Regions from separate parts of the Homo sapiens genome. Here all the other regions are linked to region 3. The links come from fine-mapping of genetic effects on gene expression. A gene starts in region 3. Each other region holds a variant in brackets. All regions are shown on one strand. Distances are from middle to middle.

Region 1 (4,065 bases), 120 kb before region 3:
CACAGCGAGACTCTGTCTCAAAAAACAAAAACAAAAACAAACAAAAAATGGCCAGGCGCGGTGGCTCATGCCTGTAGTCCCAGCACTTTGGGAGGCTGAGGCAGGCGGATCACCTGAGGTCAGGAATTTGAGACCAGCATGGTCAATATGATGAAACCTCGTCTCTACTAAAAATACAAAAATTAGCTGGGTGTGATGGTGCGCACCTGTAGTCCCAGCTACTCAGCAGGCTGAGGCAGGAGAATCGCTTGAACCTGGGATGTGGAGGTTGCAGTGAGCTGAGATCACACCACTGCACTCCAGCCTGGGCGACAGAGTAAGACTCTGTCTCAAAAAAAAAAAAAAAAAAAAAGAAAAGATAAGAAAAGAAAAGAAAACAAAAACAAAAACAAAGTATCTCGTAACATCGTCCTAGACAAGAATGAGAAAGGACAGGCTGCTAGGGGTCCAAACCACCGCCCACCAGCCAAACCTGGCCTCAGCCTGCTTGTGCATGGCCTGTGAGCTAGGACTGGTTTTTGTGTTCTTGTTTAGGGACAGAGTCTTGCTCTGTTGCCCAGGCTGCAGTGTAGTGGTACGATCATAGCTCACTACAGCCTTGAACTCCTGGGTTCATGCAATCGTCCCACCTCCACCTCCCAAGTAGGTGGGCCTACAGGTGCGCACCACCACGCCAGGCTAATTAAAAAATTTTTTTTTGTAGAGACCGGGTCTCACTTTGTTGCCCAGGCTGGTCTTGAGCTCCTGGCTTCTAGCGATCCTCCCACCTTAGCCTCCCAAAGTGCTGGAATTACCGGCGCTAGCCACCATGCCTGGCTTTTTAAGGGTGGGGAGGAGGAGGAGGAGGAGGAGGAGGAGGAAGAGGAGGAGGACGAGGAGGAGGAAGAAATAGTAGCAGCAGGAAGCCACAAAGCCAAAAACATTTACCATCTGGCCCTTTGCAGAAAATGTTTGCTGGCCCCTGGACTAGGCAGGGCAGCCTATGAGGGTGGATGTCCACACATACAGAGGCTGATTACTGGCCATCACTTTGGGGTAAGGCATGCTGGTGCCTGAGCCTGTGTCCTCCTCCTCATGTTTACCAGGGAGGTATATGTCAGGCACAGTGATTGATCTAACTGATGCTGGGAACAACAGTAACTACATTTAGATGACTATTTTTTTTTGTTTGGACAAGGTCTTGCTCTGTTGCCCAGGTTGGAGTGCAGTGGTGCAATCATGGCTCATTGCAGCCTCGACCTCCTGGGCTCAAGCAATCCTCCCACCTCAGCCTCCCAAAATAGTTGGGAGCACAGGTGCATGCCACCACACCCAGCTAATTTTTTTTTTTTTTTTTTTTGAGATGGAGTTTTGCTCTGTCACCTGGCTGGAGTGCAATGGCGTGATCTCAGCTCACTGCAACCTCCGCCTCCCCGGCTCAAGCGATTCCCTTGTCTCAGCCTGCCAAGTCGCTGCGATTACAGGCACCCACCATCACTCCCGGCTAATTTGTTTTGTAGTTTTTAGTAGAGACGGGGTTTCACCATGTTGACCAGGCTGGTCTTGAACTCCTGACCTCAGGTGATCCTCCTGCCTCGGCTTCCCAAAGTGCTGGGATTACAAGCGTGAGCCACCGCACCCAGCCACTAATTTTTTATTATTTGTAGAGGTGAGGATCTCCCTGTGTTGCCCAGGCTGGTCTCGAACTCCTGGCCTCAAGCCATCCTCCTGCAGCGGCCTCCCAAAGTGCTGGGATTACAGGCGTGACCCACCGCGCCCAGCCTCAGCCTGGTTCCTTGCGTGAGTCTTGGTTTCTTGGTCTCCTTTTCCCCGTATGCCAGCTGCCTCCCTCCATAAGAGAACATCTGTGATGACCTTCGGGGTGCCCACTTAGGCTTTCAAAGGGGCCTGGAATGTAGGGCACAGGGTAAGAGACTCGGACACCAGGCCTTGGGGAAAAGGAGAAGCGGGCCCATATGCCCTCCTCTCACCCACAGGGAGCTGTGGCTTCGAAAGGGGCTCCTCCCTTGTAAGGCTGCTGCTCCTGTCGTCATGGAGGAAACCTTGGTTCTGCTTCCCTAGCACCCCAAACTGCAAAGTCACGCTGGCAGGTATTGCACCCAGAGGGCTCATTCCCCATTCATCATAGTCACTGGTTGGGCAAGTCACCCTCCCTAGAAAGCGCAGCCTTGGGTAAATCCACCAGACATATCCTGATCTTTCACTATTCACAGAGCCAGACTGGAGTGGCCTTTCGTAATGGCCCTGGCCAGAGCT[C/T]CCGGGGGAAGCCTTCCGGATAGGCAGCTTGTCAGCAAGAGTGGGAAACCCTGGGCTGCGCCCTCCCCACAAACCACCAGCATTGCCCAACTTCCTCTCTTCATGCCCTCTACCACCCTCTCGTTGCCCCAGCTTTCTTTCTTTCATTTTTTTTCTTGAGACACAGTTTCACTGTCACCCAGGCTGGAGTGCAGTAGTGTGATCTCGGCTCACTGCTACCTACCTCCACCTCCTGGGTTCAAGCGATTCTCACACCTTAGCCTCCCGAGTGGCTGGGATTACAGGCACGTGCCACCAACTCTGGCTAATTTTATATTTTTAGTAGAAACAGGGTTTCACCATGTTGGTCAAGCTGGTCTCAAACTCCTGACCTCAAGTGTTTCATCTGCCTCAGCCTCCCAAAGTGCTGGGATTACAGGTGTGAGCTACCACACGTGGCTAATTTTTGTATTTTCAGTAGAGATGGGGGTTTCACCATGTTGGCCAGGCTGGTCTTGAACTCCTGACCCCAGGTGACCTGCCCTCCTCAGTCTCCCAAAGTGCCGGGATTACAGGCATGAGCCACCGCACCCAGCTGTTTCCCCAGCTTTCTAACAGTGAGGTTAGTTTTGTCTCTTCTCTTTTATTAATATACTGCTACTTATCTCCAATGATCTGAAGACTCAAGGTGGGTGATGCCTGACTTACAGGAGATCCCCCAGCACGGGAACCATCCCTTATCCAGCTCTGGGTCTCTTGCAGTGTCCAATTTCTAGAAGTGACCTTTCTGTCAAGTGAATGAGCCAAGCCCCAGCCACATCCCAGCACTAGAAAACCTGATGCCTCTCCCTTGAGCACATCCTTTTTTTTTTCTTCCAAGTTTTTTTGTAGAGATGGGGTTTCACTATGCTGCCCAGGCTGGTCTCAACCTCCTGGGCTCCAGTGAGCCTCCCACCTTGGCCTCCCACCCAACATCCTTGACATCCCACCTTTTGTTCTATTTCTGCAGGAATCGCTGTGTGTAGAAAGAAAGCCTTTGGTCAGTGGTTCCCAGACTTGGCTAGGCCGGGATATCATCTGAGAATCCTGTACCCCGAGTTTGTACACACACCCCTAGATTCCTTTGCTCCACCCCCAAATTGGACTCATTTGGGCTCGGAAGGGCCCATGGCACTGTTAATTCAGGTGATGTTACAGAAGAACATTGTATGTCAGAGTCTAAGAAAAAATTCAGCTAAAAGTAAAAACAGTGGCCGGGCACAGTGGCTCATGCCTGTAATCCCAGCACTTTGGGAAGCCCAGGTGGGCGGATCACTTGAGGTCAAGAGTTTGAGACCAGCCTGGCCAACATGGTGAAACCCCATCTCTACTAAAAATACAAAAATTAGCCAGGTGTGGTGGCGTGTGCCTGCTGTAATCCCAGCTACTCGGGAGTCTGAGGCAGGAGGATTGCTTAAACCCAGAAGGCAGAGGTTGCAGTGAGCCGAGATCACTCCAGCCTGGGCGACAGAGCAAGACTTTGTCTCAAAAAAAAAAAAAAAAGAGAAGAAAAACAGTAACAAAAAGGAAGAATGAGAGCAAAGAATAAAGATGGTGGAAATGTGAAGAATGAAGTCAGTTTCTCAGCTCAGACAAGTATACCTTGATGTAAGTAAATTTTTTTCTGGAAAATGTGAATTGCCACTAAGGCCAAATTAGGAGATTATTATTCATTTCACAGAAGACATTGGCATTCGATACCCTTAAATAGCAATCTCCGTTAGTACATTTAAGAGAGGATTCAGTTTACAGAAGTGTGATTTATACAAAACCACATCTGTTACATAAAGC
Region 2 (4,065 bases), 110 kb before region 3:
TTAGTTTCTATAGGAGTTTCCTTAAATCTCTATAGAATAAAGAACCCAGTAACCTGCCCAGGTAAGTGGTAGAGACAGATTTTGAACCCCAGGACCCAAGGCCTTGACCACTCTGAAATACTGTTCCTAGATCAAAGTGAGGGGCCCTTTGAGATTTGACTTCTCTGAGCCTCAGTTTCTCCAGCTTGAACATGAAAATAGGAATCACACTTTTCTGAGAATTGCATGAGACACGGTGCTCTGTCACCTCCAGCCTTGTTCCAGTTGATGTTACTTGGGTAGGGCTGAGAGGGCCTTGTTTATTGTGGGTAGCATCAAGTCCACACCCAGGGCCATGGCCAGAGAACTGCCCATTTGACCTTGCCTCCCTTACTGGAGATTTGTTGGATATAAGAGGCAGCATCTTCCCTCCAACTACTAGAAAATCTGGCAGAAGTGGATGAGTGTTCAGTGCTCTGTAGACCCTCTGGCTGACGGCTGGATCCACAGTTGAGTAGACCTCAGGATGATGGTCAAGGGGAGCTGGGCACAGGGAAAGGGCCCTGAGGTTTAGACTCAGACAACTCTCAGCAATGAGCCATGAGCTAAATCTGGAGTCCAGGATTTCAGCCAGACTGTAAGCCAAGTACACACCATGAACAGGGGTTCCAGAGTTCCCTGGCAGCCAAGGAAAATCCCCTGCTAGGAATGAATGTGCTCACTCCTCTTTCACAATTCTTATCCAAGCATATTTAGAACAGTGCAGCCATTTCTGCATCTAACCCCATTTCCTGGATCATTTACCACCTTCCAACAGCCTACAAAATTTTCTCATTTACATTTATTGCTATTATCTATGACTCATCCCCTCAGTCCCTGCAGGAGCTCAGCTCCACAAGGCAGGAATCTTTGTTTGGTTCAGTGAAGTATCCCAAGTGCTTGGAACAGCACCTGGCATATGGAAGACACTCTATAAATCTTTTCTGAATAAATGAATAAATGAAATGTCACCTTCCCCACCCCACTTCCTGTACCATTTGGCAGAATTAGTCATCTTGCCTCTGAATGTCTATAGAACTTTCCTTAAATCTCTCATATTGTACCAATCACACTATTGTGATTATTAACATTAATCTAATATTATAATTTTATCTCCTGTACCTCTTTTTTTTTTTTTTTTTTTTTGAGACAGAGTCTTGCTCTGTCACCCAGGCCAGACTGTAGTGGCACAATCTCGGCTCACTCCAACCTCTGCCTCCCGGGTTCAAGTGATTCTCGTGCCTCAGCCTTCCAAGTAGCTGGGATTACAGGCACGTGCTGCCGCACCCGGCTAATTTTTGTATTTTTAGTAGAGACGGGGTTTCACCATGTTGGCTGAGCTGGTTTCAAATTCCTGACCTCAAGTGATCCACCTGCCTTGGCCTCCCAAAGGGCCGGGATTGCAGGTATGAGCCACTGCATGCGGCCTGTACCTCTTTTAAGGAAGAAGCCATCAAAGGATCACTTTCTCTCTTACATTATCTACACCTGGCATGAGGTCTGGGTGGGTCCTCAGTGTCTGCTGACTCAGGGGACAATCTTCACATATACAGGGCAAAAAAGACAATAGCCAGGACCCTGGTTGTAACCATTAGAAACATCCCTACCCAGCACTGGGGCTGGTGACATGATCTTGAGCTAGGGGGAGTAGGGAGGCAGTGATTTTGTAAGACTTCTTCCTAGCCTGAGAAAAATCCAGCAAGAAAAAGTTATTTTAGGTCCCAGAATACGAGGCTGAACTGAGTCCTCCAAAGAGAGGTTAAGATAGAAAGTTAATGAAATGTTCATTTCAAAAAAACTTTGCCCAACCCACGGTTTGCAACTCCCACACTTATCCTGGTACCAGTGAGAGCCATCTCCAGGCCCGGGTAGCAGTAGGCAGCGTAAACCCGTTGGCCAGAATAGCATATCCACGTCTGATTGTCAAGTGGAGGCAGCCCCGCTTACTGGCTCTACTAGAGACTTGCTGGTTATTTTTAACACAGGCCCTCACACCTGTGCCCACTCCTCCTCTCCATTCCTCTGGCCCCGCTCCTAACAAACCTACTCAACATTCATTCCCCAGGGTTGTATGTTCAGCCTGTGTGCAGCACCTCTCTCTCAACTGGAATGTCTTCTTTTGTCTTTTAATCATTCATGCATTCAGCACCCATTGTGCATCCTGTATTTCCTTCAATTGCGGCTCCCCCGCTTTTCTTTTTTTTTTTTTTGAGATGGAGTCTTGCTCTGTCGCCCAGGCTGCAGTGCAGTGCTGCAATCTTGGCTCACTGCAACCTCCGCCTCCCAGGTTCAGGCGATTCTCGTGCCTCAGCCTCCTGA[A/G]TAGCTGGGATTACAGGCGTGAGCCACCACGCCCAGCTAATTTTGTATTTTTAGTAGAGACGGGTTTTCTCCATGTTGGTCAGGATGGTCTCAAACTCCCGACCTCAGGTGATCCTCCCGCCTCGGCCTCCCAAATTGCTGGAATTATAGGTGTGAGCCACTGCGCCCGGCCTGCTCCCCTTCTTAAAGCACAGCTCTTCCAGGTATCACTGAGGTGTAAAAAGATTCAGCTTTGGGAGGCCAAGTTGGGAGGCCGAGGCAGGAGTATTGCTTGAGGCCAGCAGTTCAAAACCAGCCAGGGAAACATAGCAAAATCCTGTCTCTGCAAAAAAGTTAAAAATTGCTGGGCATGGTGGCATGCACCTGTAGTCCCAGCTACTTGGGAGGCTGAGGTGGGAGGATCACCTGAGCCTGGGAGGTTGAGGCTGCAGTGAACTGGAACTGGAATTGCACCACTGCATTCCAGCCTCAGGGATAGAGTGAGACCTTCTCTCTGAAAAGGAAAAAAAGCCAGCACAGTGGCTCATGCCTATAATCTCAGCACTTTGGGAGACCAAGGCGGGCATATCTCTTGAGCTCAGGGATTCAAGACAAGCCTAGGCAACAAGGTGAAACTCCGTCTCTACAAAACATACAAAAATCAGCCAGGTATGGTGGTGTGCACCTGTAGTCCCAACTACTCGGGAGGCTGAGGTGGGAGAATCACTTGAGCCTGAGAGGTTTGAGGCTGCAGTGAGCTGTGACTACACCACTGCACTCCAGCATGGAGGATAGACCGAGATCCACCTCAAAAAAAAAAAAAAAAAAAGATTTGTGTTCTGTATCCTGGAAACTTTGTTAGCCCACAGAGATAGGGAGTGTGCCTACTTTTCAAGCATCGACCAGAGGTAGTTTCTGAACAAATCCTGTGGTTTCATGACCTTACCCTTTTAGCGTGCCTGAAATACCCTTATTTTCCTCCTTCCAGGGGATCTTCTTCCCCTCTGTCCCCAGTTTTCTTAATGATACCCTTCCTTAAGTTGCCGGCTGGTTAACCCCACCTTCTCCAGGCTGACACATGCCCCATCCTTTGTGCATTGCACCACATGTATTGCAACTACTAACAGGTCTGATTGCCCCGGCAGACTGAGCTCACCCAGCAGTGATCATTCTGCAAGAAGCAATGCTCCCCTCTTTCCCTGAAGTTTTCAGATTTTATTTGTAGCCTAAATGAAAGAGCAAACATATTTCTAATGATAGCCATGGTTTACTAAGCCCCTCCTATGTGCCAAGTACTGTATTTTGTATTTTATCTTATTTTTTTAGACAGGGTCCTGCTCTGTCACCCAGGCTGGAGTGCAGTGGTGCAATCACATCTCACTGCAGCCTTGAACTCTTGGGCTCAAGTGATCCACCTGCCTCAGCTGGGAGGATCCCTAGTAGCTGAGACCACAGGCTCATGCGACCAAACCCAGATAATTTGTTTTTTAAATTTTTTTTTTTTTAGTAGAGATAGGATCTTGCTATTTTTCCCAGGCTGGTCTTGAACTCCTGGGCTCAAGTGATCCTCCCGCCTTAGCCTCCCAAAGCACTGGGATTACAGGCATAAGCCACCATGCCTGGCTTGTGTCAAGTACTTTAAGTGAGCATCTTGACAGTGCTGCAAGTCTGCAGACACCAACCTGCCTTAGAAGCGAGGAAACAGTATGAGGAGATCAACTAACTTGTCTACGATCTGAGAGTCGGCAA
Region 3 (4,065 bases):
ACCTGCATGGAGGCACTTTCTTTTTTTCTTTTTCTTTTTTTTTTTTGTAGAGACAGGGTCCCACTGCTTCACACTATCCAGACACACCTGCGCGCGGTTTTCTTTCTTTTTTTCACTTTTTTGTAGAGATAGAGTCTCACTCTGTCACCCAGGCTGGAGTGCAGTGGCACGATCATAGCCCACTGCAGCCTCAGCCTCCTGGCTCAAGTGACCCTCATGCCTCAGCCTCTCAAACAGCTGGGACTATAGGTGTATGCCACCACACGAGGATAATTTTAAAATTTTTTCAAAATAGAGGCGGGATCTCAGTGTGTTGTCTAGGCAGGTATCGAACTCCTGGGATCAAGTGATCCTCCCACCTTGGCCTCCCAAAGTACGGGGATTACAGGTGTGAGCTAATGCACCCAGCCTAATTTTTTTATTTTTTGTAGAGACAGGGTCGCACTATGTTGCCCAGGTGGGGGGCCAAAGGTTTTCAGAATAAGAAGAGGGGATGAAGTCCTCTGGGGGTGAAAAGCTTTATTCTTTTTTATTATTATTATTTTGAGACGGAGTTTCGCTCTTGTTGCCCAGGCTGGAGTGCAGTGGCGCCATCTCGGCTCACTGCAACCTTCACCTCCCAGATTCAAGCAATTCTGCTGGCCTCAGCCTCCCAAGTAGCTGGGATTACAAGCGTCTGCAACCACGCCCAGCTAATTTTTTGTATTTTTAGTAGAGACAGGGTTTCACCATGTTGGCCAGGCTGGTCTCAAACTCCTGACGTCAGGTGATCCACCCGCCTCGGCCTCCCAAAGTGCTGGGATTACAGGTGTGAGGTACCGCGCCCGGCCAAAAGCTCTATTCTTTGAAAGATTCCATATACAGAACCTTCAGTCAGATTCTCACTGTCTTTTCTAACTAAAATCCCAAAGCCCTTTCCCTCCAACTGTGTTTGGGGGAAGTATTCCTCGCATAACACATCAGGGGACCAGCCTCTGGAGAGGGGGACCCAAATGGATCTTCAAAGGTTCCACTCTGAGCACAAGAGTGTAGAAGAAATCTGCCCCTCCAGCATTGGCACTGGGATTAAAAGAAGCGTTGTACTCTTTGAAATGGATTTTACATACAAATGAATTGATGAACACCATCAACATGTCAGCTTAATTCAGCCCAATCAATACACCAGGCATTAAAAACTCGGAGAAAAAAATGGATTGTGGCTTTTTGTTGATGACACTGAGGAATTTTGGCCCCAAGCCCTGGCCAGGCAGGACAAATAGGGCAGTCTGCCTATTAGCTGTCAGGCACATCTTGGGGGATAAAACCAAGACCCCAAGTCAGGGCTCAGGGGCACCATGGTCTCCACTTTAGCCCCCAAAGTAATTTTCCCACAAAGTGGCCACACTTTGCATTTCCTACATTCCTTTTCCCTGCTCCGACCCCTTCCGCCCGGCCTCAGAGCTGACAGCTGGGGCTGGCCAGAGCCAAGCAAGAGGCATCGAGAAAGGGGGATGCTAAGGGGTGGGGGGTGGGAAGGGATGTCAATGCAACCAAGAAGTGATCGGAGGGGAAGAGAGGTCCCCTCACCCTTCACATTCCCAGCCCGGCGCCCCCACTCTCCGCCCCCACACTTGAGCCTCCAAGTGGCTCCCGTGCGCTTCCCTTGTTTAGGGGCAACCCTTCCATTCCGCCCCTTTTCAGTTCCTTCCCCTCTCACCTCATCTTGGGACTCCTGCCCGGTACCCAGCCGATCAGGCTCCTCTTGGCCACGCATCCTGCCATCTCCTCCGAGCCCGCCTCTGCCCTTCTCCCCAGGCCAGCTGGGGTACCCTGGGGTCCCCGACCTTCCTGGGATCGCCCAGATCTGCACGTCAATGCCCCCGCTCACTACACCCTCGCCCCGTCTTCAACTGGGGCCTGCAAGACTCCTACTCCCTTCAAAGCCCCTCCCGGACACCGCGTCCCTCAGGGTGCCCCAGGGATGCCCCGGGGTCCCCCGTCCTCACCTGAGTCCGCTCGAAGCTCTCGCGCTCCGCCGCCTCCAGCCCAGCGCCGACCCCGCGCCGGCTCAGCACCTTGGGCAGTGGGTTGGGCACCTGCTTCATGGAGCTGGCCATCCGATCCATGTCGCCGCGAGGAGCCGAGTCAGGGGCCCTCGGCTGCCCCGGGATCCCCACGGCGCCGCCCGCCCCGCCCTACCCGCGGGGATCCGGCGCTAACGGGACGGCTCCCGCCTGCCATTGGCTGTGAGTTCTGCCAGTCTTCCAGAGACCCCGCCCCTCGCCGAACGGCTTCCCCGCCCGCCCCCGCCCCTTCAGGAGCCCCTCCGCTGGCTCGGCCCCGACTAGCCTCTCGGGGCCTCGAGGCGCGTGGTGACTGGTCTGGAGTCCTGTCAGTCACCGTGGTCCCGCCGTTCTAGGCAGGGCCGGGGCGGGGTGCGGACGGGGCGAGGCCTGGATGGGGCGTGGCCTGGGCGGGCTGCCCTGATATGCCCTCGCTCGCCCCGCCCCCGCCCGCGCACCGCCCTCTCCTCCCCTCGGCCGCAGTCCCCGCGCGCCCCGAGCGTGCTGCCCTCCGCCAAGCGCCGCCCACTACCCTGCCCGCTCCTGCAGGGGGCTATCCCGCGACGGCCCGTGGAGATGGGCGGGGATGACGCGGGCCGGGCAGTGGGGCCTCCCCCGGGGGAATCCCAGCCCGCCTGCGAATAGCCCGTTAGCTCCTTCCGGGCCTGGGACCCGGGAGCGCCGGACTGACCAGCCCTGCGGCCGCAGCCCGGGAAAGCGCAGCCCCGCGGGCGGGGCGCAGCGTGGGCGCCTGGCCGGATCCGGCTCAATGGGTGGCCGCCCCCACCCAGCTCCCAGGCTTCCCCGTCCTGCACTTCTCCATTCTGCCCCTGCCCATGCCCTCTGCAAGGATCGCAGAGCCCAGGTCCCGGAGTTCGGGGCTGAGTCCGCGGGCACCTCCCGGGACCTGCCTCCCAAACCTCATCAAAGGAACCCGTCAGAGCTTATTTGTTGGTAGAAAGCCCTGTAGACACTTTCGGTTTATCTTAGGCTCTGAGCCGCGCGTCCCATCCTGCTCAGACGTCAGCCAGGGTACCAGCAAGCAGAGAGAAGTGTGATGCTTAGCAGGAGTGCTGGAGAAAGTTAAAAGTTTTCCGTTAAACTCCAATTTAGGTGTGTTTTTGTTTTTGTTTTTGTTTGTTTTTTTTTTTTTTTTTGGTTTCATTTGGAGTCAGTCTCCCTCTGTCGCCCAGGCTGGAGTGCAGATCGTAACACACTGGGACCTTGAGCTCCTGGGTCCTAGCGATTTTCCTGCCTCGGCCTCTCGAGTAGCTGGGACTACAGATGCACGCCACCAAGCCTGGCTATCTTTTTTGCAGAGATGGAGTCTTTCTATGTTGCCCAGACTGGTCTCGAACTCGTGGCCTCAAGCAAGCCTCCCACCTTGGCCTCCCAAAGTACTGTGATTACAGACATGAGCTACAGCACCCGGCATAGATGTATTTTTTAAAAGTTATTTGAAACTCGGAGTAATGAATGGCACCTTTAGGCCTAACAATTTGGTGATTCGTGTGTGTGTGTGTGTGTGTGTGTGTGTTGTAAATTTGGCCAGGTGCGGTGGCTTACACCTGTAATCTCAGCGCTTTGGGAGGCTGAGGCAGGCGGATCGTTTGAGCTCTGAACTTTGAAACCAGCCTGGGCAACATAGCAAGACTCCATCTGTACAAAAAATTTTAAAATTAGCTGGGCGTGGTGGTGCAAGCCTGTAGTCCCAGCTACTCACAAGGCGGGAGGATTACTTGAGCCAGGGAGGCAGAGGTTGCAGTGAGCAGAGATCGCGCCACTGCACTCCAGCCTGGGAGACAGAGCGAGACCCCGTCTCAAAAAAATATATACATATTTCTTTGTAGTGAGGGGTATGTTGCTGGATTGCCCAGGCTGGTCATGATCTCCTGGGCTCAAATGATCCTACCACCTCAGCCTCCCAAAGCACTGGGATTACAGGTGTGAGCCACCCTGCCCTGCCTGTTTTTTTTTTGTTTTTGTTTTTATTTTTTTTAATAAGAGCGTTTGGTAAAAATTC
Region 4 (4,057 bases), 130 kb before region 3:
GGATGGAGGAGAAGCCAGGAGGCAGGTGAGGCTGCGTGTGGGAGGCCAGTGGGCTTCTGAGTGGCAAGAAGAGATGACAGCAGGTGGAGGGGAATGGGCCAGCAGTGGCGGCAGCTGGGGTAGAGCTGGATGGAGCCTGGAGGTGAGAATTCAGGGAGGAAGCTATTTTTGTTGTTGTTGTTGTTTTGAGACGGAGTCTTGCCCTGTCGCCCAGGCTGAAGTGCAATGGCGCAATCTTGGCTCACTGCAACCTCCACCTCCTGGGTTCGAGTGATTCTCCTGTCTCAGCCTCCGAAGTAGCTGGGATTATAATAGTTGCACATTACCACGCCTGGCTAATTTTTGTATTTTTAGTAGAGACAGGGTTTTGCCATGTTGGCCAGGCTGTTCTCAAACTCCTGTCCTGAGGTGATCCCCCTGCCTTGGCCTCCCAGTGTTGGGATTAGAGGCGTGAGCTACCGCGCCTGGCTGTATTTTTATTTAATCAATTATTATTATTTTTTGGAGACAGGGTCTTGCTCTGTCACCCAGGCTGGAGTGCAGTGGTGCAATCATAGCTTACTATAGCCTCAACCTCCTGGGTTCAGGCAATCCTCCCACCTCAGCTTCCTGAGTAGCTGGGACCACAGGCACATACCACTATGCCTGGCTAGTTGGTTTTTTTAAATAGAGACGGGGTCTCATTATGTTGCCCAGGCTGGTCTTGAACTCCTGGCCTCAAGCAATCCTATTGCTTCAACCTCCTAAAGTGCTGGGCTTATAGGTGTGAGACACCATGCCCAGCCAGAAGCTATTTAATAGCATAAAAGTACAGGAAAAATGGAATCAAAATGAAAGATGTGAGAATGGAAATGACCCAATATAATGTGAGCTGTAAAACGAGCTTCAGTAGGACTGGCAGATAGGAGCTCCGGGTTACAGGGAGACAGCAGAAGGATGCATCCATGGTGCCTCCAAGATGATGCAGAGACTTTAGGAGGCCGAGGGGGGCAGATCACCTGAGACCAGGAGTTCAAGACCAGCCTAGCCAACATGGTGAAACCCCATCTCTACTAAAATACAAAAATTAGCTGAGTGTGGTGGCTCATGCCTATAATCCCAGCTACTTGGGAGGCTGAGGCAGAATTGCTTGAACACGGGAGGTGCAGGTTGCAGTGAGCCGAGATCCCGCCATTGTACTCCTGCCTGGGCGACAGAGTGAGACTCCGTCTCAAAAAAAAAAAAGATGATGCAGAGGCTCTGGACCTAGATGAGGGGAGGATAGCAGCAAGGGCCACAAGCTGGGGAGACACTGTAAGAAAAGGACCCGAAGGAACAATGAACAATGAGGCCAGGCGGCTCTTGGGTAAGAAATAGCCATTTTTAAAAGAATGAGGAAGTGAACTAGCGGTAACGGTGGTGATAATTATCAAGCTGATGGCACTAATGAGTGCTTAGACCAGGCCCCTTTGTATGAATTATCTTATATAAAGTCTTACAACTCTACAACCTACCAGTAGACACTTAATAGTATTAATCAGCTCCATTCTGCAGATGAAGAAACCAAGGTACCTGAGATCTCTTAGGCTTAGAAAGGCTAAGTAAACCTGGGTGGGGTGGCTCATGTCTGTAATCCCAGCACTTTGGGAGGTTGAGGCTGGAGGATTGCTTGAGAACAGGAGTTTGAGACCAGCCTGGGCAATAGAGCGAGACCCCATCTCTAAAAAAAAATTTTTTTTTAAATAGCCAGGTGTGGTGGTGCACACCTGTAATCCCAGTACTTTGGGAGGCTTAGGTGGGAGGATTACTTGAGGCCAGGAGTTTCAGAACAGCCTGAGCAACACAGTAAGGCACCATCTCTACAAAAAAAAAAGAGTTGTTTTTTGTTTTGTTTTTTTTTTTTTTGAGACAGAGTCTTGCTCTGTTGCCCAGGCTGGAGTGCAGTGGTGTGATCTCAGCTCACTGCAACCTCTGCCTTCTGGGTTCAAGCGATTCTCCTGTCTCAGCTTCCCAGTAGCTGGGATTGCAGGTGCACACCACCAAGCCCGGCTAATTTTTGTATTTTTAGTAGAGATGGGATTTCACCATGTTGGTCAGGCTGGTCTTGAATTCCTGACCTCAGGTGATCCGCCCATCTTGGCCTCTCAAAGTGCTGGGATTACAGACATGAGCCACCATGCCCAGCC[TA/T]AAAAAAAAAAAAAAAAAAAAAATTTGTCAAGTGCGGTGGCCGTGCCTGTAGTCCCAGGTACTTGGGAGGCTGAGATAGGAGGATCACAGGAGGATCACTTGAGCCCAGGAGTTTGAAGCTGCTGTGAGCCATGATCACGCCACTGCACTCCAGCCTGGGGACCAGAGTGACACCCTATCTCTAAAATAAATAAATAAAAATAAAAAAAGAACTGCTAAGTAAACTGCCCAGGCCCGTAACATCAGCAAGTGTAGGGCGGGGATTCAGTCTTTGCAGTGTGACCAAGCTCAGGCTCAGGATCACAACCTCGGCACTAGACAAGGCCCTCTACACCACAGAGACACGATCAGAATCCACAGACTGGAAAAATGCATTAAAATTCACAAGATGAAATCCAGTAGGTACAAAGGAAATTTTCTATACTTAGGCCTAAACTCACTGGCACAAGGGAGCCGTGACTCAAAGCAGCACTTGTGAAAAGAATGAAGGTGTTTTGGCTGGGCACATGGCTCACGCCTGTAATCCTAGCACTTTGGGAGGCTGAGGTAGGTGGATCACGAGGTCAGGAGTTCAAGTTCGGCCTGGCCAAGATGGTGAAACCTCGTCTCTACTAAAAACACACAAAAAATTAGCCGGGCGTGGTGGTGGGCACCTGTAATCCCAGCTGCTCGGAAGGCTGAGGCAGAAAATTGCTTAAACCCGGGAGGCGGAGAACGCTGTGAGCCGAGATCACGCCACTGCACTCCAGCCTGGGTGACAGAGAGAAACTCCGTCTCAAAAGAAAACAAAAAAAAGAATTAAGGTGTTTTATTTGGCTGCTAACTTAATAATAGCAAGATTTTGATACGGTTGATGAACATGCAAGTCTGATCTCTCTGGATGCATTAAAAGGAGGGAACGTATGGTTCCAGTTCTCTACACAGATAAGGCCATGCGTGAAACACTATTCAGTTTCAGGCTTTATACATTATGAAGGAAACTAACAAGCTGGACCATTTCCAAAAAAGAGTGACCTGGATTGAAATGGACTTAAGATCTGAAGAAAATTTAGAGAAATATCAGTATTCTGAAGCGTGACCATCTGGAAGCAGGAAAAACTCCAGAGGCTTGAACCTAGACCAATGGGCAGAAGTCCAGAGAGGCAGTTTCTGGATGAACTTAAAGCTGTCTCATGAAAGAGAACTCCTCATTATTAGAAACACACATGCAGAAGAGAGGCAACCTCTCTGGGTTATTGTGAAAAAGATGGACAGGTTCAGATTACATTAGATGACTTCTAGGTCTCTTCCCATTTTTAGACTCTGAAACGGCTGATCAGATGACGGAGGGCTCTGGATATCAGGTCGAGGAAAACTGTGATCTGATGGGTACTGGGGATCCACAGAAGGCTCTTGAGCAGGGGAGGAACATGACACAAATGACCCTCTGTTCTCCTGAATGAGTTACTTCTCCAGTGTGCTAAGGAAAGTGGGGAACACCGTGGGAGTCACCGCCTCCCAGTATGAATCCAGTGCAACTGACAAGGACCTGGCCTAAGCACTGGCTTGTGGAAAGAAGTTTCTTCCTAAACCAGCGGCTACAAGGCACCTGTAAGCTCTGCCTGAGCTTGCCAGGACTGTCCCAGACCCTTCTCCTGCAGCTCTGGGGGGGCTCACAAGAGCTCTCAGGCACTGTCATCATCGTGCCCCAGTTCCCCAAGCAACACTTCATCATAGTGGCTGTACCCATGAGGCAGAGCCCACTCTATGGTTTGGGGCCCATTGCCGAGTCTGTGGCAAGGCTTCTTGGGGGCTCATTCTGGGTTCTAAGGCAACCTGTAGGTCCCCCAGGGGGCCAGGGAATGTCAGATACTGAGGGGTTTCCAGGGCAGAAGTTCCCTGCGAGGACCAG
Region 5 (4,065 bases), 160 kb before region 3:
GAGGCCTGCGCTTCAGGAGAGAGGCCAGTAGGAAGGGGCAGTGTGTGGTCTTTCTGCTCAGACGTGAAACCACCCGCTTGGAAAATATCTAGGAGGCCAGGTGTGGTAGCTCACGCCTGTAATCCCAGAACTTTGGGAGGCTGAGTTGGGAAGACACCTTGAGGCTGGTAGTTCAAGAACAGCCTGGGCAACACAGTGAGACCCCTATCTCTGCAAAAAATATAAAAAATCAGCCAGATGTGGTGGTGCGTGCCTGTAGTCCCAGCTACTTGGGAGGCTGAGGTGGGAGGATCATTTGAGCCTAGTAGTTTGAGGTTGCAGTGAGCCGTAACATGCCACTGCAATCCAGCCTGGGCGACAGAGTGAGACCTTCTCTCTCTCTCTCTCTTTTTTCTTTTGAGATGAAGTCTTGCTGTATCACTCAGGCTGGAGTGCAATGGCATGATCTTGGCTCACTGCAACCTCGACCTCCTGGGTTCAAGCAATTCTCCTGCCTCAGCCTCCCAAGTAACTGGGATTACAGGCATGTGCCACCATGCCCGGCTAATTTTTATATTTTTAGTAGAGACAGGGTTTCACCATGTTGGCCAGGCTGGTCTTGAACTTCTGGCCTCAAGTGATGGGCCCACCTTAGCCTCCCAAAGTGCTAGGATTACAGGTGCGAGCCACTGCACCCGGCCGAGACCTTGTCTCTTAAAAAGAAAAATACTGAAGAGGTTCAGTCCCTCCCTGCACGAGGGTTGGAGAGACCAGAGATGGGGTGTGAATGTCTCCATTTTCCTACCCCTTGTGCTGCACACTTTGCAGGGAGAGGAGGACTAGGAATTAGGTAGTTCCCATGAGAGCCTGGGTTAGACGGGAGGGAAGAGACTCACCTGTTTGGAAGAGGTTGAGTTCACACTCCAGGTAGTCAAACATCTCCACTGTTAACTGGAAACTGGACCCAAGAGGAAAGAGAGCTTACACTCCACAGCCTGAGGCCGGTCTGTTACCTGTCCCCTCCCCCACGCTCTACGCTACTCCAGTCTCCAATGCTCATGTGCATGCGCAAACACACACACAACTCCAGCTCCAAGTCTTAGCCTTGTGGGTATTATGGCCATGCAGCCTGGTGAAGTCAACAGTGACAGCGACAGGTCGGGGGCGGTGGCTCACGCCTGTAATCCCAGCACTTTGGGAGGCCGAGGTGGGCGGATCACCTGAGGTCAGGAGTTCAAGACCAGCCTGGCCAACGCGGCGAAACCCCATCTCTACTAAAAATATAAAAATTAGCTGGGTGTGATGGCGCATGCCTGTAATCCCAGCTACTCGGGAGGCTGAGGCAGGAGAATCACTTGAACCTGGGAGGTGGAGGCTGCAGTAAGCCGAGATCAAGTCACTGCACTCCAGCCTGGGTAACAGGGCAAGACTGCCTCTCAAAAAACAAAAACAAAAACAGTGACAGTGACAGAGGGAGAGGATAGGTACCAGTGTTGGAGTCAGAGGGCAGAAAGCGAGACAGACAGGAAAGCTTTGGGGTGTGAAATAGCCAGGCAGGGGTTCTGGATGAGGCACCACCAATAAATAAGTAGCCCCAAGGCCAAGTCACCCAGGGGCTTTGGTCCCCATCCCAGCCACGGCCTCCCCCCATCAGGCCCTCCATGACCCTTATGAGAAGTGTCAGCATTCACAAAAGCTTTCTCCCTCCCTGGGCTCAGGGCAGGAGCCACTTACAAGTTGTTCACGTCACTTTCTCCAGCCTCGTCCAGCTGGCGGTCACTCATCTGCAGGTTGCCTGGGAACCTGGGATTCTGGAAGGGAGGCAGAGGAAGGGAGTCAGGGCAGAAGACATGAAGAGCCCTCTCTCAGCCGGGCGTGGTGGCACAC[G/A]CCTGTGGTCCCAGCTACTTGGGAGGCCGAGGTGGGAGGATTGCTTGAGCCCGGGAGTTCAAGTTTACAGTTCAAGGCCACTGCACTCCAGCTTGGTTACAGAGTGAGACCCTACCTCAAAACAAACAAAAAAGAAAAAAAGAAAAATCGCTGGTATCATCAATCATTGCTGAGTATCTACAGCCAGCATGATCCTGTCATCTGTGTGGTTTGTCCCTGTGGCAAAGGGAAAAGGCCACAGAGATGGGTGGCCATTCCATCGTGGGGCATCTACATGTACAAGTGGATACTTTAGGCTCTAGGCCAGGTGCGGTGGCTCACACCTGTAATCCCAGCACTTTGGGGGCCAAGGCAGATGGATCACTTGGGGTCAGGAATTAGAGACGAGGCTGGCCAACATGGCAAAACCCTGTCTCAACTAAAAATACAAAAATTAGCCGGGTGTGGTGGTGCACGCCTGTAGTCCCAGCTCCTTGGGAGGTTGAGGCAGAATTGCTTGACGCTGGGAGGCGGAGGTTGCAGTGAGCTGAGATCGCACCACTGCACTCCAGCCTGGGCAAGAGTGAGACTCCGTCTCCCCCACCGCAAAAAAAAGAAAAAAAAATCCCCATTGCAGACTTTGCTCCTGGGCTCCATGGTGCCAAGGCCTCTGAGGCTTGACCTGGCACCTGGGACACAGTTTTCCTTTGCCCCAAGTCATACACGCTGAGATTACAACCTCTGACCTCAATTTCAGCACCTTCACCTCTACTCCATCCCCACTCCAGACTCTGCCATCACCTAAAACATCCCTGCCCAGACCTCCCCACACCAGCATCTCCCTCTCTGGCTGCATCGCCCAGGCCTCTGCCCTTTCAGTCCTCTCCTGCCCTCAAGTCCACCCACTACTCACGCTTCTGTCTCAGAGATGGCCAGTCCCCTCCTGCTCCCTCTCCTCCCCATCTCTCTGCCTGCCTTTGCTTCCTGGCTCAGTCTTGACATCATGACTGGTGGCCTGGCTCCACTTCCCCACACCCTGCCTGCCTTTCTACCACACTGCTTGGAAGACCTGCTGAGAGCCTGGGTCCTTGTCATCGGCTCTGCACCTAGGGCCGGCTGCCGACTGTCCCTGGAGAAAGACTCACAGCTGGTGTCACTATGCATTCACGCTCTCTGTCCTGAACGTCCGTCTCAGTCAGCTCGGGCAGTTATAACAAGATACCATGCACTGGGTGGCTTAACCCATAGAGAGTGTCTTTCAGTTCTCGAGGCCAGGGAGTTCAAAGTCAGGGTGTTGACAGATTCGGTGCCTGGTGAGGCGCTTCATCCTGATTACGTTGCTTACATGGCAGAGGAGGGGGAAACCAGCTCTCTCTTGTTTCTCTCTCTTTTTTTATTTTTTAGAGACATGGCCTCACTGTTGCCCACGCTGGAGTGCAGTGGCATGATCATCACTCACTGCAGCCTCGAATTCCTGGGCTCAAGTGATCCTCCACCTCAGCCTCCTCAGTAGCTGGTACTACAGGCATACACCACCATGCGGGCTAATTTGTGTGTGTGTGTGTGTGTGTGTGTGTGTGTGTGTGTGTGTGTGTGTGTTTAGTAGAGATGGGGTTTCGCCACATTGGCCAGGCTGGTCTTGAACTCCTGACCTCAGGTGATCCGCCCGCCTTGGCCTCCCGAAGTGCTGGGATTACAGGTGTGAGCCACCACGCCCAGCCAGAGAATGAATTTTTCTTTAATGTGTGCGGGATATTTTTGTTGTTGTTTTCGAGACGGAGTCTCACTCTGTTGCCCAGGCTGGAGTGCAATGGCATGATCTCAGCTCACTGCAACCTCAGCCCCTTGGGTTCAAGCGATTCTCCTGCCTCAGCCTCCTGAGTAGCTGGGATTAACAGGCACGCACCACCATGCCCGGCTAATTTTTTTGTATTTTTAGTGGAGATGGGGTTTCACCATGTTGCCCAGGCTGGTCTTGAACTCCTGACCTCAGGTGATCCACCCGCCTCGGCCTCCCAGAGTGCTGGGATTACAAGCGTGAGCCACCGCGCCTGGCCAAAAAAAATTTTTTTTAAGAGACAGGGTCTCACTGTGTTGCCCAGGCTGGTCTCACCTCAAGCCTTGGCCTCCCCAAATGCTGGGATTGCAGGTGTGAGCCACTCTGCCCAGCCTCCTTCCCCACTCTTGTATCGCTAATTGCTAAAAACTGGAAAAGTCCTT
Region 6 (4,065 bases), 250 kb before region 3:
TACTCCCTTTTAGGGTCAAATCCAGGGCTCCGTTACTGGGTCCTGGAGCCCAAGTCCTCTGGGTTAGAACGGAGTTTCCCATAAGGAGAAGGAAAGGAAAGGGTGTATCATGGTCACTGCTCTGAAATGCTGAGAAGTTTCACTCAAATACTGGGACAGGATAAATGCCCAGCGATGCTTTCCAAGGAACAAAAAGAAAATAGAATTTGTAGCTGGGCGCAGTGGCTCAAGCCTGTAATCCCAGCACTTTGGGAGGCCGAGGCGGGCAGATCGCGAGGTCAAGAGATAGAGATCATCCTGGCCAACATGATGAAACCCTGTCTCTACTAAAAATACAAAAATTAGCTGGGCGTGGTGGCGCGTGCCTGTAATCCCAGCTACTCGGGAGGCTAAGGCAGGAGAATCACTTGAACCTGGGAGGTGGAGGTTGCAGTGAGCCGAGATCACGCCACTGCACTCCATCCTGGCGACAAAGCGAGACTCCATAGCTTTTCTAGATCACACAGCGAATGCCTAAAAACCGTAGAGAAATAAGGACATACACACACAAACTGAACGAGGAAGAGATACCTGTGATCCTACCTTCCCCAGGAGGATTATGTTTAGGGTTAGGTTATGTTGACCAAAAAGAGTCAAAGTCTATAAAGAGTTTTATTCTGGGCCTCCTATTTGAGTGACCATGGCTGGTGACACAGCCTCAGGGGGTCCTGAGAACGTGAGCCCAAAGTAGTTGGGTTACAGCTTGGTTTTATGCATCTTAGGGAGACAGTAGTTACAGGCAAAGACATAAATCAATACATGGGAAGTATATGTTGGGTCAGCCAGGAAAGGCTTTCAGGTCACTAGTAGATTGAAAGACTGGCAGTTGGTTCAGAGTTAAGTGTTGGCTGAACAGCTGGAAGACTACATAAAGAAATGGGCCATTGCGGTGGCTCATGCCTGTATTCCCAGCATTTTGGGAGGGTGAGCTGGGAGGATCCCTTGAGGCCAGGAGTTCAAGGACAGCCTGGGCAACACAGCGAGACCCCCACTTCTACAAAAAAAAAAATAATTATCCAGGTGTGGTGGTGCATGCCTGTAGACTCAGCTACTCAGGAGGCTGAGATGGGAGGATCGCTTGAGCCTGGGAAGTTGAGGCTACAGTGAGCCATGATGGCACCACTGCATTCCAGCTTGGGCAACAGAGAAGAAAAGAAAGAGAGAGAGAGAAAAAGAGAGAGAGGAAGGAAGGAAAAAGAGGGAGGGAAAAAAAAGAAGGAAAAGTTTGAGTTAAGATAAGGGGGATTGTGGAAACCAAGGTTCTTGTTATGTAGGTGAAGCCTCAGAACAGGCTTCAGAGAGAATAGATGATAAATATCTCTTATTGGATCTTAAAAGGTGTCAGACTCTCCAGAAAAGACCTGGAGTCTTTTCTGTAAGGCAAAGAGATTCTCTACAGAATGCAAATTTCCCCCAAAGAGATGGCTTTGCAGGACTATTTTAAAGTTTGTCAAAGAAAATATGTTATGGGGTAAAATACTGTGATTTACTTCAGGGACTGCTATCTGTCATGTGATGCTATATCAGAGTCTGGTTGGAGATGGGTATCTTACTGATAAAAAGAGCCTGTTTTGTCAGTCCTATGATGTCTATTCTAATAGAGATCATAATGTTGGTCAGCTGTGCCTAAACTCTGACGGGAGGAGAATTATGACAAGGCATATCCAACCCCCTCCTTCCCATCATGACCTAAATTAGTTTTCCATGTTTATTTTGGATCCTGTTGGCCAACAGGGGAGTCCACTGAGTCAGTTGTGGGGGCTTAGAATTTTATTTTTGGTTTACAATTAAAATGTCAATTTTCAAAAATGGGATCATAAAGACAATGATTCATCACAATTTTTTGGTGAAATCTAACAGTGTTCTTGCCCAGTTGTTTCATAAAAACTGGTAAGGAAAAGACTAAAAATAAATTCTTCTGAAGCCAGGTGCAGTGGCTCACGCCTGTAATCCCAGCACTTTGGGAGGCCGAGGCCGGCGGATCATGAGGTCAGGAAATCAAGACCATCCTGGCCAACATGGTGAAACCCCGTCTCTACTAAAACACAAAAAATTAGCCGGGTGCGGTGGTGCGTGCCTGTAGTCCCAGATACTTGGGAGGCTGAGGCAGGGGAATCACTTGAACCTGGGAGGCAGAGATTGCAGTGAGCCGAGATCAGGCCACTGCACTCCAGCCTGGGAGACAGAGCAAGACTCCATCTCAAGATAAATAAGTAAATAAATAGATTATTCTGTTAACCTAGAATATTCTCTCCACAAATTCAGAAAATAAAGAAAACAATTTTATTATTGAATAAGCATTAAACCAGACTGTGATGCCCATCACAGGTGATCCATTAATGAGATGCAAAGAGAAATAAACC[CTCCT/C]TTTTTTTTTTTTTTTTTTTTTTTGAGACAAAATCTTGTTCTGTCGCCCAGGCTGGAGTGCAGTGGTGCGATCTCGACTCACTGCAACCTCTGCCTCCCCAGTTTAAGGGATTCTCCTGCCTCAGCCTCCCAAGTAACTGAGACTACAGGCGCGAGCCACCACACCTGGCTAATTTTTTGTATTTTTAGTAGAGATGGGGTTTCGTTATGTTAGCTAGGATGGTCTCGAAATCCTGACCTCGTAATTCGCCCGCCTAGGCCTCCCAAAGTGCTGGGATTATAGGCGTGAGCTATGGCGCCCGGCCAAAGCGTCCTTTTTATATAGCCTGGCAGATACAATCCATTGCATACACGCTCTCAAGATAAATAGTAACTCATCCTCATGCAAAAGGACTTGCTATGCAGTTTTTTTTGTTTTGTTTTTTTTGAGACAGGGTCTCATTCTGTCATCCAGGCTGGAGTGTAGTGGTGTGATCTTCTTGGCTCACTGTAACCTCCACCTCCTGGGTTCAAGTGATTCTCGTGCCTAAGCCTCCCAAGTAGCTGGAATTACAGACATGTGCCATCATGCCCAGCTAATATTTGTATTTTAGTAGAGACAGAGTTTCGCCATACTGGCCAGGCTGGACTCAAACTCCTTCTTTCGATTTCTGTGTGGCTTCAAGTGATCCGCCCGTCTCGGCCTCCCCCAGAGTGCTGGGATTACAGGTGTGAGCCACCGCGCCTGGCCTGCTATACATTCTTAAACACTCATCCTAAATTCACCTGGAAATCAACGTGGCCATCCATGCTAGTTAATTACCTGTATTCAATGAAAAAATAAAACTTCTCACATCTCCTTGACAAGCAGGTAGTAACAGCTCAAGTTGCCTAGGCTAAACTCCCTAGGCAACAGGAAGATAGGGACACTATTTTCCTCCAGGTTTACATTTCAAAGACAAGACTCTTAGGCTCTTAAGAAAAAAATTCCTGGATTGTGACCAGGCACGGTGGCTCACGCCCATAATCCCACACATTGGGAGGCCGTGGCTGGTGGATCACCTGAGGTCAGGAGTTCAAGACCAGCCAGACCAACAAGGTGAAACCCTGTCTCTACTAAAAATACAAAAATTAGCCAGGCGTGGTGGCAGACGCCTGTAGTCTCAGCTACTCAGGAGGTTGAGATGGGAGAATTGCTTGAACCCGGGAAGTGGAGGTTGCAGTGAGCCGAGATTATACCCCTGCACTCCAGCCTGGGTGACAGCGAGATTCTGTCTCCAAAAAAAAAAAAAAAAAAAAATTCCTGGGTTGTAATGTCGGCAAGAAGTTCATTTACCTTTTTAAAAGATTTAGGTACATATCAAAGGCACAAAAGAAGTTATTTATATTACAAGGTTTATCAAGGAAATACTCTTTAAAAAGGAGAGGAGATAAGGTTAATTTCCCTTTTGGCAAGTAAGACAAATGTAATCTTTTTTTTTTTTTTTTTAGAAAATCCATACAGTGAGGGCTGGGCACGGTGGCCCACATCTGTAGTCCCAGCACTTTGGGAGGCCAAGGCAGGTGGATTTGAGGCCAGGAGTTCGAGACCAGCCTGGGCAACATGGCGAAACCCCATCTCTACCACAAATACGAAAATTAGCTGGGTGTGGTGGTGTGTGCCTATTGTCCCAGCTACTC
Region 7 (4,065 bases), 120 kb before region 3:
GACTGGGGCCACTGGAAGTGGTTTTGTTTTTTGCGGTTTTTGGTAAAGACGGGGTCTTGCCATGTTGCCCAGGTTGGTCTTGAACTCCTGGCCCCAAGCGATCCTCCTGCCTTGGCCTCCTAAATTGCTGAGATTAACAGGTGAGCCAGTGTGCCTGGCCTCCCTGGAAGGTTTTGAGCAAAGCGGTAAAACGATCTGATTCAATAGGATCCCTCTGGCTGCTGTGCTGAGAACAGACTGCAGGGACCAGTGTGGCTGCAGGGACCACAGTGAAGACTCTGCTGCCTTCAATCAGGACAGAATTGATGGTGGAGGCAGAGGAGGTGTCGAGACGTGGTCGGTCTCTGAATTTATTTTGAAGCTAGAGCTGATGGGATTATCTGATGTTCTGGATCTGGGGTGTGAGGAAGGAAGGAGTCAAGGAGAACATCGTGATGATTTGCCTGAGCAACTAGAGGGACTGAGCTGCCATTAACAAGCTGGGGGGACCCATGGGAGAGTTGGTTTGGGGCTAGGTTAGACATGACACACCCACCAGGTATCCCAGTGGAGCTGTGGGTGAGCAGTGGGCTGTGCCGCATCTGGAGTTCAGAAAAGGTCTAAGCTAGGCCAGGTGTGGTGGCTCACACCTGTAATCCCAGCACTTTGGGAGGCCGAGGTGGGCAGACCTCTTGAGGCCAGTTCGAGACCAGCCTGGCCAACATGATGAAACCCTGTCTCTACTAAAAATACAAAAATTAGCCAGATGTGGTGGTGCACGCCACCCAGCTGACTCGGGAGGCTAAGGCAGAAGAATTGCTTGAACTCAGGAGGTGAAGGCTGCAGTGAGCTGAGATCATGCCACTGCACTCTAGCCTGGGTGATAGAGTGAGACTCTGTCTCAAAAAAAAAAAGAACAGGTCTGAGCTACATTTATAAATTTGGACGGAATGTAAGAGTGGATAAGAGCACCAAGGAGTGAGTGCAGATGAGATGTCTGGGGACAGCCTGAGGACACCCCGACGTTCAGGAGAGACAGGAGGCCAGGTACGGGCAGTGGCTCATGCCTGTAATCCCAGCACTTTGGGAGTCCAAGGAAGGAGGATTGCTTGAGCCCAGGAGTTCGAGACCAGCCTGGGCAACACAGTGAAACCCCGTCTCTACCAAAAATACAAACATTGCAAGTCTTAAAACCTGGTCTCTAAATAAATAAATAAGGATAGGAGGGAATCAGTGATGGAGATAGAAAAGAAACAGCCTGTGAGGTTGGGGGAAGCCAGGAGACTGTGGCACCCTGGAAGCCATATGAAGAAATGCATTTTGACCGGGCATGGTGGCTGGTGCCTGTAATCCCAATGCTTTGGGAGGCTGAGGCAAGAGGACACTTTGAGCCCAGGAGTTGGAGGCTGTAGTGAGCTATGACTGCGTTACTGCACTCCAGCCTGGGCAACAGAGCAAGATTGTCAAATAAATAATTATCTATCTATCTATCTATCTATCTATCTATCTATCTATCTATCTATATATTTTTTAAAGGAAATTGGCTGGGTGTGGTGGCTCACGCCTGTAATCCTAGCACTTTGGGAAGCTAAGGCGGGCAGATCACCTGAGGTCAGGAGTTTGAGACCAGCCTGACCAACATGGTGAAAGCCTGTCTCTAATAAAAATAAAAAATTTAGCCAGGCGTGGTGGTGCGTGCCTGTAATCCCAGCTACTCGGGAGGCTGAGGCAGGAGAATCGCTGGAACCTGGGAGACGGAAGTTGCAATGAGCTGAGATTGTGCCTCTGCACTCCAGCCTGGGCAACAGAGCGGGACTCCATCTCAAAAAAAAAAAGCAAAAAAAAAAAAAAAAAAAGGCTCTCCCCCTCTGATGGTAGGTCGAGGAGAGAAAGGGGAGGCTGGGAGCTGGAGGCAATGAGTGCTCTACAGGGTTTCTGCTGTGAAGAGGGACAGAGAGAGAGGGCAGCCGCTGGGAGGAGGTGGGCTCAAGGTTTTCTTGTTTCCAGTGGGAGACATAATAA[T/C]GCATTTGCATGCGCATGAGGAGAGGACGGGAGAGTGGCAGGGATGGGAATGGGGCCTGGTGCCCAGCAGGAGGGCAGGCTGGGCCAGATCCCACAGTACAGACACAGACGGAGGCAGACATGTGGGTGAGGGCAGTGCCAGTTTTCACAGATCGTCTCTCTTCACAGTGAAACAGGAAGCGAGGTCAGGGCTGAGAGCTCAGGATTTGAGGAATGCACAGGATGCCTGGAGCTGCACTCAAGGACCAGGCAAGTGGCACTTGGAGAAAGGAACTAAGCCAGCCTCCGCCTCCTCTTCTCCAGCCCAGTTCTCCCCAGAGCCTCTCCCTTGTCCTCAAACCAACTCTTCTCCTCCTCCTCATTGCCTTTCTGGCTTGTAAAGTGTTTGAGGCTGGGCACAGTGGCTCACGCTTGTAATCCCAGCACTTTGGGAGGCCGAGGCGGGAGGACTGCTTCAGCCTAGGAGTTTCAGACCAGCCTGGGGAGTAGTGAGACCCTATGTCTACAAAACATCAGAAAATTAGGGTGTGGTGGCTCATGCCTATAGTCATAGCTACATAGGAGGCTGAGGCAGGAGGATCGCTTGAGGGCAGGAGGATCACTCGAGCTCTGAAGGTCAACGCTGCAGTGAGCTATGATCGTGCCACTGCACTCCGGCCTGGGAGACAGAGCTGGACCTTGTAAAAGAAACACACGCACACCTCCAAAGCACAGACCTCGCTGATCTCAGGTCAGAACCAAAGAAAAGAGATGGAGTGAGCGGTGAGGCTGTGGTTACACTCTGGAGGCCACGGAATCAGGCAGGCAGAGGCGCTGATGGATACTCCCTGCTCTGGACCCAGGGAGTGAGAACAAGCTGGGGAGGATTTGCTAATCAGTTTTCTAAAGTGGAAAGAGAGGTTGTTGCTAATTCCGGAGGTGGATTTCATCATCGGCTGCACGGCTGTGACGTGACTTCCTCAGAAAGCAAAGCTGCCAGAAACTCTCCCTTCTACTTCTTCTGTCTTTGGGGTGAAGAAGAGCCCTTCCTTAGGGGAGTGGGGGGAAAAAGAGCTATGAGATTCAGAAGTATAGGGGTGTTGGCCGTGGGGGAGTCATCCAACAGGCCCCAGGCAGGGTAAGCCCCACCGAAGCCTCCAGGCCTGACAGCCTACTGGTCTCCTGGTGGCCACAACGTCACTGGAAGCCCCCTTTCTAAAGCACAGCTCCAATCATGTCAGAAACATCCAGGGCTTACGAGGAAACTGCTCCACTCCCTGGCCTGGCACTCAAGGCCTGGAGATCCGGCCCCCACTTGCCTTTCCAGTCTTAGAATTCATTCCTGTCCTTCCCTTTCCCAAATACGTCCTGTCTAATTTGACCCTCATGCCTTCTCTTCATGCCACCTCTCTAACCAAGATTAACTACCCTGCCAAAACCATCTCCATTTATTTAAGTTCCATCATTCATTCAGATAGTTATGATTTTATTCATTCATTGAATTCATCCATCAAATCTATATTCATCCCTCTGTGTCTGTACATAGGTGTATTTTTGTTTAATTTTTTTTTTTTTTTTTTGAGATGTCTTGCTCTGTCGCCCAGGCTGGAGTGCAGTGGTGTGATCTTGGCTCACTGCAGTGCCTCAGCCTGCCTCCTGAGTAGCTGGGAATTACTGGCACCTGCCACCACGGCCAGCTAATTTTTGTATTTTTACAATTAGTAGAGATGGGGTTTCATTATGTTGGCCAGGCTGGTCTCGAACTCCTGACCTCAGGTGATCCACCCACCTTGGCCTCCCAAAGTGCTGGGATTATAAATATAAGCCACCATTGTTTAAGTTTTTATAGAGATGGGGTCTCACTCTGTTGCTCAGGCTGGTCTCAAACTCCTGGGTAGGTGTATTGAGCACCCGGTCAAGTGTTGCATTAAGTCAACTCACAGATCACTAAGACTTAGTCCTGGTTTCAGAGTGAGGTCTAGATGGGGAGAAAGTGATGGCATTGTGTCCACCTTGTGAGAGGAGAGAGATTGGTGGGTATGGACTGTATGGAGGCCTGGGGTGTGGGCATCTATCTGAGGCTTA

Evidence for each region.
Region 1: its variant is fine-mapped to the expression of HIP1 in whole blood (TOPMed, PIP above 0.99). The same link has a PIP of 0.9 or more in T cells, blood mononuclear cells, monocytes, neutrophils and tibial nerve.
Region 2: its variant is fine-mapped to the expression of HIP1 in whole blood (INTERVAL, PIP 0.98).
Region 4: its variant is fine-mapped to the expression of HIP1 in whole blood (INTERVAL, PIP above 0.99).
Region 5: its variant is fine-mapped to the expression of HIP1 in whole blood (INTERVAL, PIP above 0.99).
Region 6: its variant is fine-mapped to the expression of HIP1 in whole blood (INTERVAL, PIP above 0.99).
Region 7: its variant is fine-mapped to the expression of HIP1 in whole blood (INTERVAL, PIP above 0.99).

What each region holds. Positions count from the first base shown.
Region 1 is chr7:75,615,755-75,619,819 of GRCh38, forward strand. The region is part of intron 1 of HIP1 (huntingtin interacting protein 1); the gene reads right to left. Among named protein-coding and RNA genes, the nearest start is that of HIP1, 120 kb to the right of the region's middle. RefSeq lists an enhancer at 1,567-2,068. The variant C/T (reference allele first, on the strand shown) is at 2,257.
Region 2 is chr7:75,627,333-75,631,397 of GRCh38, forward strand. All of the region lies in intron 1 of HIP1 (huntingtin interacting protein 1), which reads right to left. Among named protein-coding and RNA genes, the nearest start is that of HIP1, 110 kb to the right of the region's middle. RefSeq lists an enhancer at 3,812-4,065. The variant A/G (reference allele first, on the strand shown) is at 2,338.
Region 3 is chr7:75,736,816-75,740,880 of GRCh38, forward strand. HIP1 (huntingtin interacting protein 1) reads right to left here and starts at 2,126. Exons shown (of 31, transcript NM_005338.7): 1 at 1,986-2,126. The coding sequence starts at 2,105. RefSeq lists a silencer at 1,914-2,903.
Region 4 is chr7:75,605,364-75,609,420 of GRCh38, forward strand. All of the region lies in intron 1 of HIP1 (huntingtin interacting protein 1), which reads right to left. Among named protein-coding and RNA genes, the nearest start is that of SPDYE5, 120 kb to the left of the region's middle. RefSeq lists a silencer at 2,995-3,195. The variant TA/T (reference allele first, on the strand shown) is at 2,166.
Region 5 is chr7:75,580,362-75,584,426 of GRCh38, forward strand. It overlaps HIP1 (huntingtin interacting protein 1), which reads right to left. Exons shown (of 31, transcript NM_005338.7): 6 at 1,714-1,790; 7 at 876-937. Among named protein-coding and RNA genes, the nearest start is that of SPDYE5, 90 kb to the left of the region's middle. The variant G/A (reference allele first, on the strand shown) is at 1,867.
Region 6 is chr7:75,486,552-75,490,616 of GRCh38, forward strand. No RefSeq gene overlaps it. Among named protein-coding and RNA genes, the nearest start is that of POM121C, 2.3 kb to the left of the region's middle. The variant CTCCT/C (reference allele first, on the strand shown) is at 2,403.
Region 7 is chr7:75,621,395-75,625,459 of GRCh38, forward strand. All of the region lies in intron 1 of HIP1 (huntingtin interacting protein 1), which reads right to left. Among named protein-coding and RNA genes, the nearest start is that of HIP1, 120 kb to the right of the region's middle. RefSeq lists enhancers at 1,793-2,746, 2,747-3,700. The variant T/C (reference allele first, on the strand shown) is at 2,002.